Regions from separate parts of the Homo sapiens genome. Here region 1 is linked to region 2. Evidence: fine-mapped expression QTL. A gene starts in region 2. The other region holds a variant in brackets. All regions are shown on one strand. Distances are from middle to middle.

What was found. PIP is the estimated chance that this variant, and not a neighbour inherited with it, causes the effect.
Region 1: its variant is the best candidate, but not a certain one, in a credible set for the expression of BRS3 in testis (GTEx, PIP 0.79).

Annotation. Positions count from the first base shown.
Region 1 is chrX:136,417,858-136,426,611 of GRCh38, reverse strand. No RefSeq gene overlaps it. Among named protein-coding and RNA genes, the nearest start is that of BRS3, 66 kb to the left of the region's middle. The variant A/G (reference allele first, on the strand shown) is at 4,749.
Region 2 is chrX:136,482,972-136,491,725 of GRCh38, reverse strand. It overlaps BRS3 (bombesin receptor subtype 3), which reads right to left and starts at 3,779. Exons shown (of 3, transcript NM_001727.2): 1 at 3,178-3,779; 2 at 1,242-1,593. The coding sequence starts at 3,611.

The DNA of each region.
Region 1 (8,754 bases), 65 kb after region 2:
CTACTGTTAGGGTTTCCTTTTCTCCAGCATGCTGCAGAACCTTGGGTAATGGAATTAAATCCAAATGCTTCAGCTGGGGCAGTAATCAGAAGTTGGGCTCTTGTGTCAAGTAATTGTGCCACTATGTTTTCTTCACTGAATTGACTAGTTATTTGAATCAGTTAACCCATTTGATGAGGGATTTTGACACTGTGTAAATGCTCCACCTCTGCCCTCTCTCCCAGGGGATGATCCCACACAATCCCCCCAAATTATGCAGACTATAGTCTCTCACCTCAAGTGGATCTTTAAGGAGACCTACAAATTTTTCTGTTTTGCTACTTAGCTCTTCCTCCTGTTCTCTATAGCAGCTATTTTAAACCTTCTCCATCTTATCAGTCTCTTCTCACTCTCAGCAGGTTGCCTCACCTCCTACTTCACAGAGAAAATAGAAGCTATCAGATGAGAGCTCCCTTAAATTCCGATTACCAAATCTATATATTTGCCTGCGTCCACACCCACCCTTGCCACCTTCCTTCCTGTTACAGTGGAGTGCCTCACCTTCTAAGAGGAATCCTTCCATCTGTGCCATGGATCCCATCCCTTCCTTCCTTGTTCTACTGGCTAAATTATGTCCCCCCTCAATATTTCAACCTCTATATTTCTGCTAGGTACTTCCCTTAACCATGTAAATGTGTTCATCTCTCTCTTATCTTAATACTACATTTTAAAAAACTTTCTCAACCTCAGTCTCCTCCAGTGACCTCCACCCCTCCACCAACTTTTGCAACTTAGTGGCTACGTTTATTCAAAGAGCTACATTGCCCTCTTCTCCTTCCTCACTGCTCAACCTCTTGGATCTCACTAAAGTTTCCTTGGCTTACATGGGACCTCATATTTCTGGTTTCCTTCCTACCTCTCCAACCATTCCTTCAGGATGTCCCTTGCAGGATGATCCGCCTATGCCTGGCCCTCAGTGCTCCTCATTTCTGGGCCTACTTGCTTCCATTCTTCCTCCGTGTACTCCCCCTTGGGAATCGCATTCACTCCTAAGGTGGCTTCAATTACCATTGATATTGCCAAAATCTCCATTTCCATCCCTAACCACTCTTCTCTCCTCCAGACTTACATATCCAACTCCCTTCTAGACATCTCCACCTGAATGTCCCACAGGCATCTCAAAACCAGATGTCCAAGACTGAATTTATCATCTTTGTCAACAAAAACCCTTTGATCATTTTCACTGTTACATCTCAGGGAAATTCATCACACTGCATATATTCCTATTATTACTAAACTTTTAAACTACAAAAGTTATAGATACTCTATAAAAATTCAACATATACAGAAGTATGTAAAATACAAAGTGAAAGCCTCATCAATACTTCTCCCCAGAGGTAAACCACTATCAACAATGAGGAGTGTGTCCTTACTTTTTTCTGTATAACTATGGACATGCATGCACACACAAAGTTTTGTTTTTACACATACTTTATCATGCTACATGTACTGTCATGCAAATTTCTTTATGGCAGAAAAATATATTGTGGATATATTTGTATTATTAATCAAATTGGTATAGCTTCTTCTTAGCTGCATATTATTCCATACTATATATAGCCCACATTTATTTAACCCTTCTGATATTGAAAAGCTTTAGCTTATTTCCAGTTTTCACTATTTCAGGGTTGCACTGAATAACCTTGCCCATAAATTTTTGAATTGTTGAGCTAGGATAGAATGCTATAAGTGGAATTTCTGAGCTAAGTTTATATACACTGAAGTTTGGATAGACATTGCTAAAGTGTGCTCAATAGCTTGAATGGGGTTTTCCCTCTACTTTTCAACTGAGAGACAGCATACTACAATAAGATGCATAAAGTACATTATTTTAAGTGTGCAACTGAATGAACTTTTATATGTGTACTTAGCTATGAAAGCACCATTTCCGGCCTCCCAGAAGGCTCCCCCCGGCTTTTTTTGTGTTTTGTTTTTGTTTTTTTTTGTTTTTTTTTTTTTTTTTGAGATGGAGTCTCGCACTGTTGCCTGGGCTGGTGTGCAATGGCGTGATCTCGGCTCATTGCAACCTCCGCCTCCTGGGTTCAAGCGATTCTCCTGCCTCAGCCTCCTGAGTAGCAGGGATTACAGGCACCCACCACCATGGCCGGCTAATTTTTTGTATTTTTAGTGGAGATGGAGCTTCACTACGTTGGCCAGGCTGGTCTCAAACCCCTGACCTCGTGATCTGCCCACCTCAGCCTCCCAGAGTGCTGGGATTACAGGCGTGAGCCACCACGCCTGGCCAGAAGGCTATCTTTAAACCTTCCCAGTACAGACTTCTCCCTGAGAGATCACCACTATTCCAATTTCTATAATCATCGATTGTTTTTGTCTGCTCATATAAATGAAATTGTACCGTCAAAGAAGCCAGACTCATTTGTGTCTGGTTTCTTTGACTCAACATGTTTTATATTTATCCATGTTGTCGTGTGTGTGCATAGTTCATTTTTTACTGTTATATAGTATTCCATTGGATGAATGTCCCACAATTTGTTTATCCATTCACCTGCTGATGGACGTTTTGGTTGTTTCCACCATGTTGGCTGTTATGAATAATGTGGCTATGAACATTTGTGTGCAAATATTTGGTTGACACGTTTGCATTTCTCTAGGGTGTATATGCCCAGGAGAATTGCTGGGTCATAGGGTGTGTTTAACTTTCTTAGAAACTACAGAACAGTTTTCCAAACAGGCTATACCTGTTTGCCCTTCTGCCAGTTGTATAAATTGAAACTTCCTAGCATATGAAAGTATCAAATAGTGTATTGTTACTGCACACTTGTCTCCCCAGACAAGTTTAGGAACTGTCTTGTTCAGTACATCAAGTATAGTGGATTCTCAATAAATATTTGTGGAATTGGACTAGTAATTAAGTAGTTACTATTTGTTATGCTTCAAGGTCTCTACCACACAATTTTAAGAATTAACATATGTTACTGTGGACAAACTGTTGTAGGTATGGATGTTTTATTACACGAAGGACAGCCCATTTTTATGTGTGTAGGACTGTGGCCTTTACTTCATTGTATCCTCTACGGAGCTTAGCATAGAAATGGGCACAGAGGAAGTGCCCATAATGACTAGCATGCTGGACTTAGAGAGCTACCAGATTCAAAGACTGCCAAGCCTCTCTGAAACCTTTACCTGCTCATATTTCTAGACTCAGGTCTAAAGGAGGCAGAGAGAAGAGAAAAATTCTCTTCTATCCCTCACTATCTGCACTGTCACCAGCCCCAGTTTCTTAGGTTTTTAACTATAGATAGATAGTTTTCAACTTAAAAATGTTAGCCAGCTCATTCATCTATCTATCTGTAATTAGAAACCTAACTGTCTATCTATAGTTAGTTACTATCTATCTATAGTTAGAAACCTAAGAAACCTGATTTCTCAGGTCCACTAAAGACCCAGATCATGCAGGGTAGGAAAGAGCGATCCATGATAAAGTATATCTTTATGTCTCTCCTTCTGAAAGGGCCAGTGCATGAAGATTTGATATAGCCCGTTACACTAGGTCTTTATTCTTCCCCTGTAACTGTCTCTAAAATTCTCCATTCCTCTTGGAATTTGTGAGCTGAGGATGTAAAAAAGAAAAAAATCTTTCTTGCATGAACTAGGCCTTCATCAAAATTCACTCCAACTCAGATTCATTTCCATTTCTAGTCCCATTGCTGCCCACAACCAACTGAGCATGATGAATGAGTTGGCTAACATTTTGAAGGTGAAAACTGTCTATCTACTCATCTAACCATCTATCTAGCATGTCCCCGGATTTGAGTGTCTTCACTTTATTAAGGTAGCATATCCTTCAATCTTGCCTCCCCTCACATCTAAGTGAAGGAGATGTAAACAACAATCCTTACCCTTGTTTCTATGATGAATTCTAGGTTAACATAAGTAAGTCTTAGCAAACTTGGGAATCTGCCAGTCCCAACTTTTTGTTTAATTTACATAATCATTTGCATAGGACTGCATATATTAAGGAAACATCTGTACTTTTCTTACGCATTTAGATGAGATGAAATTTTTTCAGTATTTGAAGTTACTACTTAATATTGATTTCTTCTGCCTCTCCCTTTTTAGGAATCTCACTTTGTGAACATAATGCCATTAGCCTGGTGAGGTGGAGAATGGAAGTAACACTCCTCCTAGCTTTCCTTCTCAGACAACAGAGCACTCCTTAATCAGAGCTGAAAGGTCCTGGAAGTTGGGATCAAAATATATTTTCAAATATTTAAGGGAACTCATAAAAAGCTTTATGGTGAAGCACCTTCAAAAAGTGTAATTAAAAAAATGCCCTTTCAAGTGCAAAGACATAAAGGTATACTTTATAATGAATCACACTTTCCCAGCCTGCATGATCCGGGTCTTTATTGGGCTTAAGTAATTAGGGTGCAGAATGGAGGTTTGGGGAATATTTCCTAGTATTGGGGCTGAAGAGGTGCTTGTCTGGAGAGACATGGCAAGGTGACAACGTAGACAAACAATAAAGCTCATTTTAATACATTGGCTTTCCTTAGAGTGAGGCCAACTTCTGTACCCAGTATCTCTAAAGATCACCTTTTCTAACAGCACTCTTATCTATCATTCTGGGACGCTTATCTTTAACACTTCAGCTCTCTCAGCACATCCTGATTCACTTTAGTCTTAAAACGTAACTAGTGAATACCTATGTGTCTGGAATTGGTTCCTTCTGCTGCGTTCTTGGTCTC[A/G]CTGACTTCCAGAATGAAGCCGGCGACCCTCCCAGTGAGTGTTACAGTTCTTAAAGATGGTGTGTCCGGAGTTTGTTCATTCAGATGTTCAGCTGTGTCTGGAGTTTCATCCTTCTGGTGGGTTCGTGGTCTCGCTGACTTCAAGAGTGGAGCCGCAGACCTTCCCCCTGAGTGTTACAGCTCTTAAAGATGGCGCTTCAGGAGTTGTTTGTTCCTCCCGGGGGCTTCGTGGTCTCACTGGCTTCAGGAGGGAAGCTGCAGACGTTCGCAGTGAGTGTTACAGCTCTTAAAGGTAGTGCGGACCCAAAAACTGAGCAGCAGTAAGATTCATTGCTAAGAGCAAAGAACAAAACTCCCACAGCGTGGAAGGGAACCCGAGTGGATTGCCACTGCCGGCTCGGGTGGACAGCTTTTATTCCCTTATTTGGCCCCGCCCACATCCTACTGATTGGTCTATTTTACAGAGTGCTGATTGGTCCATTTTACAGAGTACTGATTGGTCCGTTTTTACAGAGTGCTGATTGGTGCATTTACAAACCTTTAGCTAGACACAGAGCGCTGATTGGTGTGTTTTTACAGAGTACTGATTGGTGTGTTTACAAACCTTTAGCTAGACACAGAGCACTGATTGGTGCGTTTTTACAGAGTGCTGATTGGTGTGTTTACAAACCTTTAACTAGACAGAAAAGTTCTCCAAGTCCTCACTCGACCCAGGAAGTCCAGCTGGCTTCACCTCTCACCTGAATGAGGCCTCAGGGTAGGGGAGAGATCTATTCTTCTTAGCACTATCCCACCCTCACTGAAGAAGGATGCTACTGAATTAGTTATCATTCAACCAAAGTATATCCACTTCTATATTGTGTGAGGTGAACATGTGGGGTTTTTTCCTACCTACTCATTCATTCCTAACACCCTACTTTCTTTTTGTAGAATGACTTCTTCCCCATTGTGGATATTCTTGGTGGGATGGTAAATTCATACTTCTACCACTATCAAAACCAAAGTGCTCCTGAAGATTTTTTCTGCCACATCCTTCCTCTCACTGCTCAGTATAGCACAAAATTTAAGCTCAGCTGATTAGATACAGGCTCACAGGATTTTGAGTCTTAAGCTAGTAGTATGAGCATAGAAATTACTGTTTATTCTTCCCAGTAATGGCGCCCGCATGAGTCTACTTCCCTGTTAGGAGACAATCACTATGGTTCCTGCTTTGTAGACTCCTGTCCTTTTTCAAGCCCTGTTCTTTTTTCTTCTTTCTTTTTTTAAAACGTTTAAGTTCAGTGGTACAAGTGCAGACTTGTTACACAGGTAACCTTGTGTCATGGGGGTTTGTTGTACAGATTATTTCATCACCTAGGTATTAAGCCTAGTACCCATTAATTGTTTTTCCTGATCCTCTCCCTCCCCCCACCCTCCACCCTCTGCAAGGCCCCGGTGTGTATTGTTCTTCTCTATGTGTCCATGTGTTCTCATCATTTAGCTCTCACTTATAAGTGAGAACATGCAGTATTTGGTTTTCTGTTCCTGCATTAGTTTGCTAAGGATAATGTCCTCCAGCTTCACCCATGTCCCTGCAGAGGACATGATCTCCTTCTTTTTTGTGGCTGCGTAGTATTCCACGGTGTCTATGTACCACATTTTCTTTATCCAGTCTATCACTGATGGGCATTTGGGTTGATTCCTCTCTTTGTGAAGAGTGCTGCAATGAACATATGCATGCATGGGTCTTTATAATAGAATGATTTATATTTCTTTGGGTATATACCATTTGGCTTGCTGGGTCAAATGGTAGCTCTGTCTTTAGGTCTTTGAGGAATCTTCACACTGTCTTCCACAATGTCTAGACCTCTTCTTTAACTTTCCCATAAATGTTTTGAATTCCCAAAACACTTTCAACAAGTCCCCTTGGTTAGTCAGAACTGACAATAATGTCAGCTCAAAGACATTTGGTTTATGTGGCTGGCAACCAAAGAACCTAGAGTAAAACATTGTGCTAGGTACTGAGAGTACAATGGTAAAAAATACAAACAAGGTTCTTGCCCTAATGGAGTTTATATAATAATGGAAAGCGTAGGTCTACTCAGCACTAAGATAACAAACCCTAGATTAGGAAAAGTCAGCCATTGCTTTCCTATGCTCATGTATTTTAGACCATTTATGCACTCAGGCATGTGACAAATATTTATGGAGTGTCTATGAGTTACCAGACATTATAAGTATAAATTTAATCCATTCCACTGGTTTTGCCTAATCAAGACAGGTATAATTAGGTCCTTCCTTCGTTGCTCCAAGCTCCTTGTGTACCCTAAATGCTTGAAGGTCAGGACCAGAAACACATCATAGGCTTGAGCTATTAGAGATACAAGCCTTACCTCCTCTTAGCTTTCTGCCCCCTCCCCAACCTTCCCATATTCCTGGGTACAGGGGAAGTGGGCCATCACAGATGGTCACTGTCATCTTTGGGACTTTGGACAAAATGATAAGGATTAGGATTCTGCGCAGGAGCTTCCTCAGACATGCCTCAGAGAGAGTTTAGTACCATTCAGTGTTTGCCACTTGCCCACAGGGTACCCAGGGTGCAGCAGAGAATGAAAAGTCCATGCCCTGAGGTTCCAGGGGGCTTTGTAAATTTGCTGATCAATGCTTAATAAAGACAATTTGCCTGTGGTATTGAGAAATAGAGTCCTGTCTTATTCAAATGTCCACCCCCGCCACCATTGGCCCCACCTGGAATACCCTACTCTCAGCCTGACTAAATCCTCTGTGACTTCCTACCTGTAAAGCACTTTCTTCTATCATATCCTTGCTCTAATCATTCACTATTCCAGTGTATGCATCTGGTCTCCCCAAGTATACAGTAAACTGCTGGAGGTAGTGGCCTAAGTATGATGTGTCTATATCTTTCCCTCCATGTCAGGACTCTGTGAATACTTGGGAGTTGATTGTTGATTGAAAGCAGTCCAAAGTTTCTAGGGTCTTTTTTCCATAATTACTTGGGTCCACCTTCACACAAGTATCAGTCATTTTGTGCGCCCAGGAAAAGCAAGCCAAAGGATGCCAGTAAGATATTTAATCAGTGTTTTCCCTGCAATTTCAAACTGCCTTTGAAATTGCAGAAAGCCTGTGTTTTCCTAATTAGCAAGGGGTGTCATGATAGGAATCATGAACTTTTCTATCAAATAACGTTTCTGTTCTCGACAGTCTGTCAGGTCATTAGAGATAGGCTGTACATTTATCACTCCAGCAGCAGCAGAACAATCAAGGTTTTATTACTTGTTGAAAATAAATACAATCATGGGCATTTTAACAGCCAAAATGATCCCCCAAATCAAATCACTTGCAAAATGCATTTATTTGTAAAAGTGCTAATTGCAACCAAGTCTTGTCCTTAAATCTATTTTTGAGTGAAAGTGACTTAATATTTCGGTTCAAAGACATGTAACATTCAAGACACTTTGATCATTATTCATGTTAGTCCCTTCACACACACGGACACACACACACACACACACACACACTCACTCACCTTTCCCTACCAAAAAAGTACACATGGAGCCACATGGGGAACAATGGATTTGACTCTGATGGCAGATATTCGGGGGCCTAAGGGCCAACCTAATTTTTATATTATGTGAGGTGTTAGGGGGAACAATGGAGACCTAGGAGTTTTATACCAGTGACTGGCACCAGTGCTGTAGTCTGTTTGGTAGTCAGCATTAAATTTTGCTTAGAAGATCAATGTGATACCTTTAATGGGGTAGACATGGTAGGTTGGGGCCATGAGGGGATGAGTGGTAAGCTGATTGGGGTTTGAAAGAGAAAGGAGTGAAGATATACTGTGTTACACTGTGCTAGAACATTTTCAGACCTCATCTTATTTCAGTTTCACTTCAATTTTAGGATGCATGCATGATCATTATTACATCACGAGGTCGCACATCTAGAAAGTGACAGAGCTGGGATTTGAACCCAATTCTGCTGTCTCCACAGCCCACTGCATCATATA
Region 2 (8,754 bases):
TGGCATGGTAACCTCTGATCTTGGGCTCATTAACTCTAATTCAGAGATACCTTTCCCCCTAATTTCGAGATACTCTAGGATGTCTGCAGTTAACTCGAAGAATGCCGTGGAATTCTCCAAAATTTACTGTAATTAAAAACAAAGAGACGCTATACAAAATTGCTTTCACTGCATCAGCAGAAGCTGACTAGGTCAGAATATTGTTTTGAGGTCTATGAAAGTTGCCAAGCTGGTAACTAAAATTGTTTTTACTCTATAGGAATTCTAACCATATAGTCAAAGAAGTAAATCCAAAATGTGCTGTCCTTTTTATGTGAAGATAATCCTACCTACATCTATTAATAAGAGAAATGAGCCAAGTTAGGTGAATATATAGCCTGTGGTCACAAATAGAGCAAAGGTAACTGGTTCACATGGGTATTAAATATGCAACTTCAGTCTCATGAGCACCATTGTTAAACTAACTGAATGGACTAGCTCTAAAAAAGGCACAGTTCTCTGCGTACCGATCAAGGGGTAAATGGAATCCTCTCTCCCCCTTTCCCAGAGGTTAGAAAAATATTTTTAATCAAATGGAACTATGTTTTGGCAACATTCCTTTTATTCTGTCCATATTTATGAGAGGGAGGGTACACGTGGCTCTTGCAGTGGTCTTAATCAAGCTTCTGTGAGTCACTGTGTTCTCGTGCTACTTGCATTCCACTCTTTCCCCTCACTCCTCCCCACCTCAGTTTGCTCATCTGTGTGTAAGTGGTTTGCATTGAATAGTGTTACGGATTCTTGCCAGTTCTATATGCTATGTATTTTTATTCTGTTACACTTTCTAAAACAAAAGATGCTTTTCTTCATAGTATCATCTTATGCAGTGTTCCCCACTATTCCATGGGGTAAAAAATTTTGACTACTCTCAAACTTCAATTGTCCCCTCTCTAATAGTAGTAGTCTTACCATTTATTGAAATACTTACTCTGCACCTAAGCATTTCATCTATATCATCTAGTAATCATCTTCATTTTACAGATGAGGAAACCGAGGCTCAGAAAGGTTAGGTAACTTGCTCAAGATTACTCAGCTAGTACGTGATAGAACTGGGATTCAAACCGGAGCCTATGCTCATAACAAAAATACTACACTGCTATTGCATTTATAAACAGGAAGATACACAGTTACTCACTGTGCAAAAGTAGGAACTTCACTTCTAAATTCAAACTAGATTTGCATGAGTACTGATTAATACATACCTGCTTACGGGCATGGCTTTGTTCCTCAGTAGGTATGTTCAGGGTGCTTTTGTAAAGGGTCCTAGCAATCAAGGAATAGTAGACAGAGATAATAGAGAGTGGAATAATGTAGAACACTAAGAAGCACAGCAGAGAATGTATTTCTTGCAAGAGCTTCTTAGAGACAGGATAAGAGGTACATGATTCAAATGTCATATTTTTATTGGGATCTCGAAAAGTGTATACATTTGAAAATATAGCCTCAGGTAGAGCAAATATCATAGACACGATCCAGACGCAGCCAGCTTTTACACAAGTCTTCAGGATGGCATTGGAGGGCTGTCGCTCAAGTGGCTTCACAACTGCCTTGTATCTAGAAACACATAATCAGAGGCAAAGGTCCAAATAAATGTCAAAGTTACCAAATTTTAGGGTGAGAAGTGACCTTAGTGGTCATCCAGTTCTACCCTCCGTGCATATGTGTATAACCAAGTCAACATTAACCAACTAGAATTGGCTATGGTTTTAAATGCACATAATACATCCCAATATTTTTATTTATGCTAATCTCCTTTTCCATTATTCACTCCTATGAGATATTCCAGATTTGCAATTTTATAATTTTATGTATAGACTCTCTATTTAGGACAAATAAACATTTATCAGCATGACTTTATGTGTGACTGAGAGTAATTCACCACCTGTGTATTACCTTAAGTGTAATACACTTAAGGTACCTAAAAGACTTCTTTTGTATAAGTGACTGATGTTAAACTGAATTAATTTTCCTTTCTTCATGAGTGAACAGTTATCAACCTTCCTAGAAGAGAATTCCAAGGGTTTATGTGGTAAAGAGGAGAGGATTAATTTCTTCCCCGTTTGTAAGTGTTAATTCGTTGCCCAACCTGATCAGTGGACAGATTTAGGGCGAGGCAAAGTTGCAATCAGAAGTCCTGTGCCGGTACAGAGATACCTCCTCATTCAAACAAATCCACCTTAAAATCTACAGTCATTAAGCCAGTCTGCCCTCAAATAGAATATAAGACCAGTCAAAGCAAAAATCATCAAAAGACACAGGGAAAGGTTTTCCTCCTCTCAGATTCTAGAATCTGAAGAAGTTATTCCTTCTGGTACTGCCAAACATCGATTACTTACAGGAATCTTGCAGGCTTTGTAAAGCATCATTTTTAACATTTGGAGCCTCAAATTTTTTCATGTTTTTACAGTTATTCTACAATAGGAACACAGAAAAACAGAGTACTTGGACTGAAAATATCCTAACACAGAATCTGAACACCCTGACTGCAAGAGGATCTCACACGCTCTCTCCACAGAGCTCTAAAAGTCAACCAAGATTAATTTATTTCTCTGGAAATGATAATGTCACTGAATGCCTACAGAGAAAACAAGTAGAATTACGTGATGACATTACACTAAGTTACCAGGGAGTTGAAAACCTCACCGTTTTTCTGCCATTAGCTAATTTGATGAATTTCAAATAAATTAGATGCCTGTGTCTTTTTACCACTCTTCCAATATACAGTTATACATATGTGGTCAATTTCACACCTATCCTGGTTTTCATGTTGACTATATTGCACCACTAGGCTGCACTAATGTATAAAGCATGAATTTTTTTCCTTTACACCTGGAACAATTTGCTTTACTTAATAAACTGGAGAAAAATAAAAACCCCGTTCAGTATACTTCCGAGCAAACAATAAGAATAAATTATCCATAAAGCATGCAATTTCAACTTCTCCTCCGTGCTAACACAGAAATTTTAACATTCTTACACTAACTTTTATTTTAAATGCCACCAGATTTTCCAATCTCACATCCACGTTACAGAGTGTGAGAAAAGCAGAATAGTAGCCAGTAAATGCTAAGTACAAGCTTTCCTTTCTTTTTGCCCAATTTCACATCCTGGCAAATATAATGGAGAAAAGAAACTCACCTGTCAGCGCTGAGAATTGTTAATGTGAACACTGACACACCAACAGAAGTGAGCCGGATGAAAGAGAGCACCTTACAACCAATTCTTCCGAACAGCCATCCTTCTGCAAGGTAGTGAGTTGCATCCACTGGCACACAAGTTAGCAGAAGTAAAAGATCTCCAAAAGCCAGGCTGGTGATGAAAATATTTGGAACTGTTTGCATGGATTTGGTCTTGAAAAAGACTTTGATGAGAATAGCATTTCCAAGGATGCCCACTGAAATGATCACAGCATAAGTAATATAGATGGCACACAATGCTTCTATTCCTGGAGAGTTGTCCCCGCTCCATCCTTTATTTGTGTTATCGTTAGAAACCACAGAGCTTGATGATTCTGTGTCATTTGTGATTGAAATTAAAGTCTGATTAGGTGAGTGAGGCTGCCTTTGAGCCATTTCTTCTGAAGACTGTGTCTTTAATATTTCTTCTTCTCAGTTCAAATGCAGTTGATTGTCACGTCCAATGCCTACGTCTAGTAACGAGATGGTATTAGGAGAACAGAACAGAACAGAATGGGAAGAAAATCCAAGACATCCAGATACTCCTTTGCTTCAGTTCTGTGTGTCTCCCAGCATGCTTGGCTAAATGCTTACCCATCTGGCACTGAAGAGTAGGAGGTGGAGTTTTATTGGCGTGTCCTGTCATAAGGAGAGGGAGGGGGCTGGGGAAATGCTCTGCAGTTGCTTATTCTTCCCTGTTGGGGAATCTTGGGACCAACTAGACCCTATTAAATCGTCTTATTTATTATTAGAATCACCCTGTTTTCATATCTACCCAGGATGGTCTATATAGGTTTTGTCAATTTTTTTTAAGAAAAAAACCATTTATCCCCCTGCAATCACATGGTAGTCTAGTGCATTTTGTTTTACATGATAAATAAGTGTAGGTGTCCCCTGAAGCACAACCTTGAACCCACTCCTCAAAATTTAATATCAGAGAGATGGTGAAGCAACAGATCATTTACACTTCGACAGGGTTTATGTCACCTCCAAGGAGTGATCATTCAGGTCACTTGGGCTTAATACCTAGCTCTGTCACGTGGTAAACCCCAACTTTGCAGTTATCCAGGCTGTGCTGTACACTATCAAAACAACCTTTTTAATTTTTTTTTTTTTTTTGAGATGGAGTCTCACTCTGTCACCCAGGCTGGAGTGCAGTGGCTCGATCTTGGCTCACTGCAACCTCCACCTCCTGGGTTCAAGCAATTCTCCTGCCTCAGTCTCCCGAGTAGCTGGGATTACAGGCGCCCGCCACCATGCCTGGCTAATTTTTGTATTTTTAGTAGAGACAGGGTTTCACCATGTTGGCCAGGCTGGTCTTGAACTCCTGACCTCAGGCAATCCGCCTGCCTCAGCCTCCCAAAGTGCTGGGATTACAGGCATGAGCCACCACACCCAGCCAAAACAACCTTTTAAGAGATGAAAAATCCAGGCACAGCACCAGTTGCTTTGTCTCTAAATGTCCTAATAAAACCACTTTTTACTGTTTGACTGTCTGTTTTAATGCCATGTTTTCTTTTAAGGGGCTGTTTAGGATTTTTCTCTCTAGAAATGGTTAAAGGGAACCTAACCTGCCTTATTCCAAAACAAAACAATACAGAACATCACTGCTCAAGCTCCTGACACAAAAGAACTTTTAAGAATGAAAATCATCATTTGCAGATGAAGAAATGAAATAGGTGACTCCAGGGATGATGGGCATGTAGATGATGTTTACATCAACTGAAAGAAGTACACATTTAAGGCAACCACCTCAGTACCAGCCAGAGAAGCTACTTTTTACAGAAAACATAACCATGTGCTTTATATGTATGTGTTTGTGGTGGGGGCACTGTTTGGGAGCAGGAAGCTAGCAGTTGGAGTGTAGTTACTAATTGAAGCTGCTAAGAAATATTCTCTGAAATTATCAAATGCAATGCATAATCTCTCAGCTAGAAACCATGTAGTGAGGTGTTCATAAATATAACCATATTAGAAAGTAGTCTGGGGAGCGAAGTGAAAAAGAGCAAAGTATTTGGCTAGCTAATGAACAGGGGGAACAACAAAGGTTGTTCTTTATACTTAGTAGGGGCAATCAGTTCTTCAGAGAAAGTGAAGTGGATGAATTGAATCAATTACCTCCTTAATTTCATGAAGGGTGGAAGACAGATGTGGTTTAAGTCCCCCAAACCACACCTATCCCCCACCCTTTATAAGTTATTGCCACAGCTTGAATCACTCAGCTAAATAACTGCCTTTGATGGGAATGGGGGTGCGGGGGAGTGTTTGCATAAACCCAAGTTCCTAAGCTTTCAGATATATACACTCTAGTAATTTCATACACTGGGCTGGTTCTTTAAGATTGTCTCTACAGAAAAGGGCTCCTTAAAGGGTTCACATCTTGTTCTCAGCAAACTAATGATAAAATCTCCCTGGGACTCCTGTGTATCATTTACCAAGGAGCAAACCATGTCTTCCAATTCACACCACAGCCGATCTCCACATGGCACTGTTTTGTAAGTTCTGTAATGCTTGCATGTGATTTCTGAGATTATCTGAATTCCCAGATCTCACTCATGCTTTCAGCAGGCTGCAGCCACTGGAATACTTTTTCTTCTCCCTCTTCCTTCTGATCAAGAGCGGTCAAGAGAGAGTAGTTGTATTGGAGTAGTACTGGAGCAGTGGGGGTCTTAGATCTCTAGAATTCCAGAATCCCAGAATATCAGAGATGGAAGTGACCCTAGACATGATCAAATCAAATGCTCTCATTTTGCAGAGGCAGAAATGAGGTCCAGAGTAGGGAAAGTATCTCACCCAAGGTCTCACAAGTTCTCAACAGAACTAAGATGAAACACAGATTCTCTTTGGCTTCTGAAAGGTTAAAAATCAGTGACAAGAGCTGAAAAACACTCAGTTCCTGACAATGAGCCATATTTGCTCATTTGGCATTGTAGGCTTAGGTTTTCTGCGTGTTCTATTAACCAAAGAACAAGAGATTTCCAGGCTAACCAGTGATTCATGATAGATAATTTAAATGCATTTGCTTTTGTATCTCTTTTACAACCTTATAATTCACTAGCAAAAGATAACCATGTCTTGTTAATCATTTTTAGCTAGGCACTTGGCCTATACAAAATGATGAAATCCTTTTTTGTTTTTAGTACATAAGTGGTCAATATTATCATCCAAGATTTTCAAAACAACTACTTGGTTTTAGATAAGGAATTGTAATACAATCCTAATGCAGCTTTTTGACTCAGAAAAGTATTAGAAGTTGAATGAATAAGTTACCAATTTTCTGAAGTTGTGTTTTCTGGTTCACAGCCCAATTTAGTTGGTGTTGTAAAAATGTTTTTTTAAGTCTCTAAGGAGCTGGGCATCTAAGGGTGCTGAAGAAGCCTTCTCTACCTCTCAGGTGGTGGGGAGAGGGGTTAGAAAACAGCTGCCAGAGAGAAGCTGCCAATTTGGTTCTAAGATTCTCGGCCATCAGTAAACAGGACAGTGGTTCTCAAATTTTGGCTTGCCCCAGAATCATCAGGAAGGCTTATCAAAACACAGATTGCTGGGTCCCACCTCCAGAGCTTCTGATTTGGTAGGTCTGGCGTGGGACCTGAGTATGTGCATTTTGAACAAGGTCCCAGGTGATGAGGATGCTGCTGGTTGGGACCACACTCGAGAACCACTTAGGATAAAAATAATTCAGTTCTTCCAAGAGGATCATGGGTTTTTTTTTTCCTGATACTGAGGTGCAACAGATATTTCTGTGGGTCTTCATTAATGAAAAAGGTACTCTCTGCTGTGATAGATATGTCAAAAACCTTCCTGGAGCTGGCTGTCCTCCCTATATATCTTAATCCCTGGTAAGCCAGATTCACTGAACTCTTGGGCATCTATGCCCAAATCATCCAGGGTGCTTGGGGTGATCTCTCCAATGGGAGAAAGATGAAGTGCATAAACTTTTTGCCTCTTACTCAATTTCAAAATCTGTTTGTATATTTAAGAACTGAAAATTGAATGACTAGAACTCTCAATCTTTAAGTCTCTAATGATCAAGCTTTCTTCTTTTATACTTTTGCACTAGGAAGTTGGATGGATTTCTTTGTTATAGATTAATTGGGTTAGATCAATTATAGGATAATATAATTCGACATGTGGGTGTGTTTGGAGCTATGTAATAATTATTTCTGTTGTCACAAAGTTCTCTTTCATTACTTCTGGTCCTAAAACCTGATTGGTACAGTTTCATATTCCAAGGGGAGCTTACTGTTCAGAATGGCCTCTGCAGAGACCAGGTAAAATAAATACAACTGTGCCATGGAACAGTTGTACTATTCTACTCTACATGGTAGAGTAGAAAGCCAAGAGGTAGAAGCAAAGAGTAGAAATTCCAATTGAATCTTTGAAATGGAATTTTTTGTTAAAGGCAAATTCTTGTCATGATTAAACTTAATGGCTCTGTAAAAGTGGACAACCATGTAGGCTGTTGGCAGACTTAGGTACCTTTATAGATGCCCTTATCACTGTACTTGTCCATCCACACATGCCTAATGGTGTATGCTATGATCCAGGTGAAATTCTACTATTATAATAGATTGAGACAATTTTGTGATTACATAAAATGTTTAGGCTTCCTGCATATATTGAAGTACAAACTATTAAGTAGATGAATTTTTCTCTTAATGCATTTCTATCTTTCTTCTCAGTAATCTTCCTTTTCCTGGAATTCTCTGCTATATCCTCAACCATGTGTACCATTCCCATATGGCTTACTTTCAGCTTCCTACTTCTTAATCCTGTTCAGGTGCCTCAAATCAATGAAAATTGTACATTTACCATATAGCTCCACAATTTCACTTCTAGGCTTCTACCCAAAATAAATGAAAACATACATCTACACAAAGACTAGTAAGAAAAATGAACATTGAAGCATTTTTTGTAAAATCAAATGAGAAATAACCCAAATGTCTGTCTGTTATGTTAGCAAGTGGGTTAACAAAATGTGGCTTACCCAGGCAATGGAATACTACACAGCAATAAAAAAGGACAATTGATACTTATTACAACATGGACGAATCTTAAACGTATGCAATGAAAGACACCAGATATACTATATGATTCCTTAATATGAAATTGCTAGAAAAGACAAAACCATAAATTATAGACAACTCACAAATAGTTGCCTGGGTCTGAAGGTTGGGGCAGGGATGACTGCTAAGCAGTACAGGGAATATTTAGGAAAGATGGAAGTATTCCAAAACTATGTGGTGTGATGATGATGGATGCATGATTGTATACATTTATTAAAACTCAACCTTTACACTTAGAATAGGTGCATTTATGGTATATAAGTTATGCCTCAATGAAGCTGAAAAATGGGGAGAATAAAAGTAAGCCCAGGGCCAGATGCCATTGAGGGATAGGGATGAGTGGGACATTTTCTAGCAAGTCTCACCTGTGCACAGGATGGAGCCAGCTCTGCCTAATGCTGCCGCTGATCCAGTGGGCATCAGGCCACCCTGCAGTCTCCACAGCCTCTGTCAGGACTAGGGCTCTTGCTCTT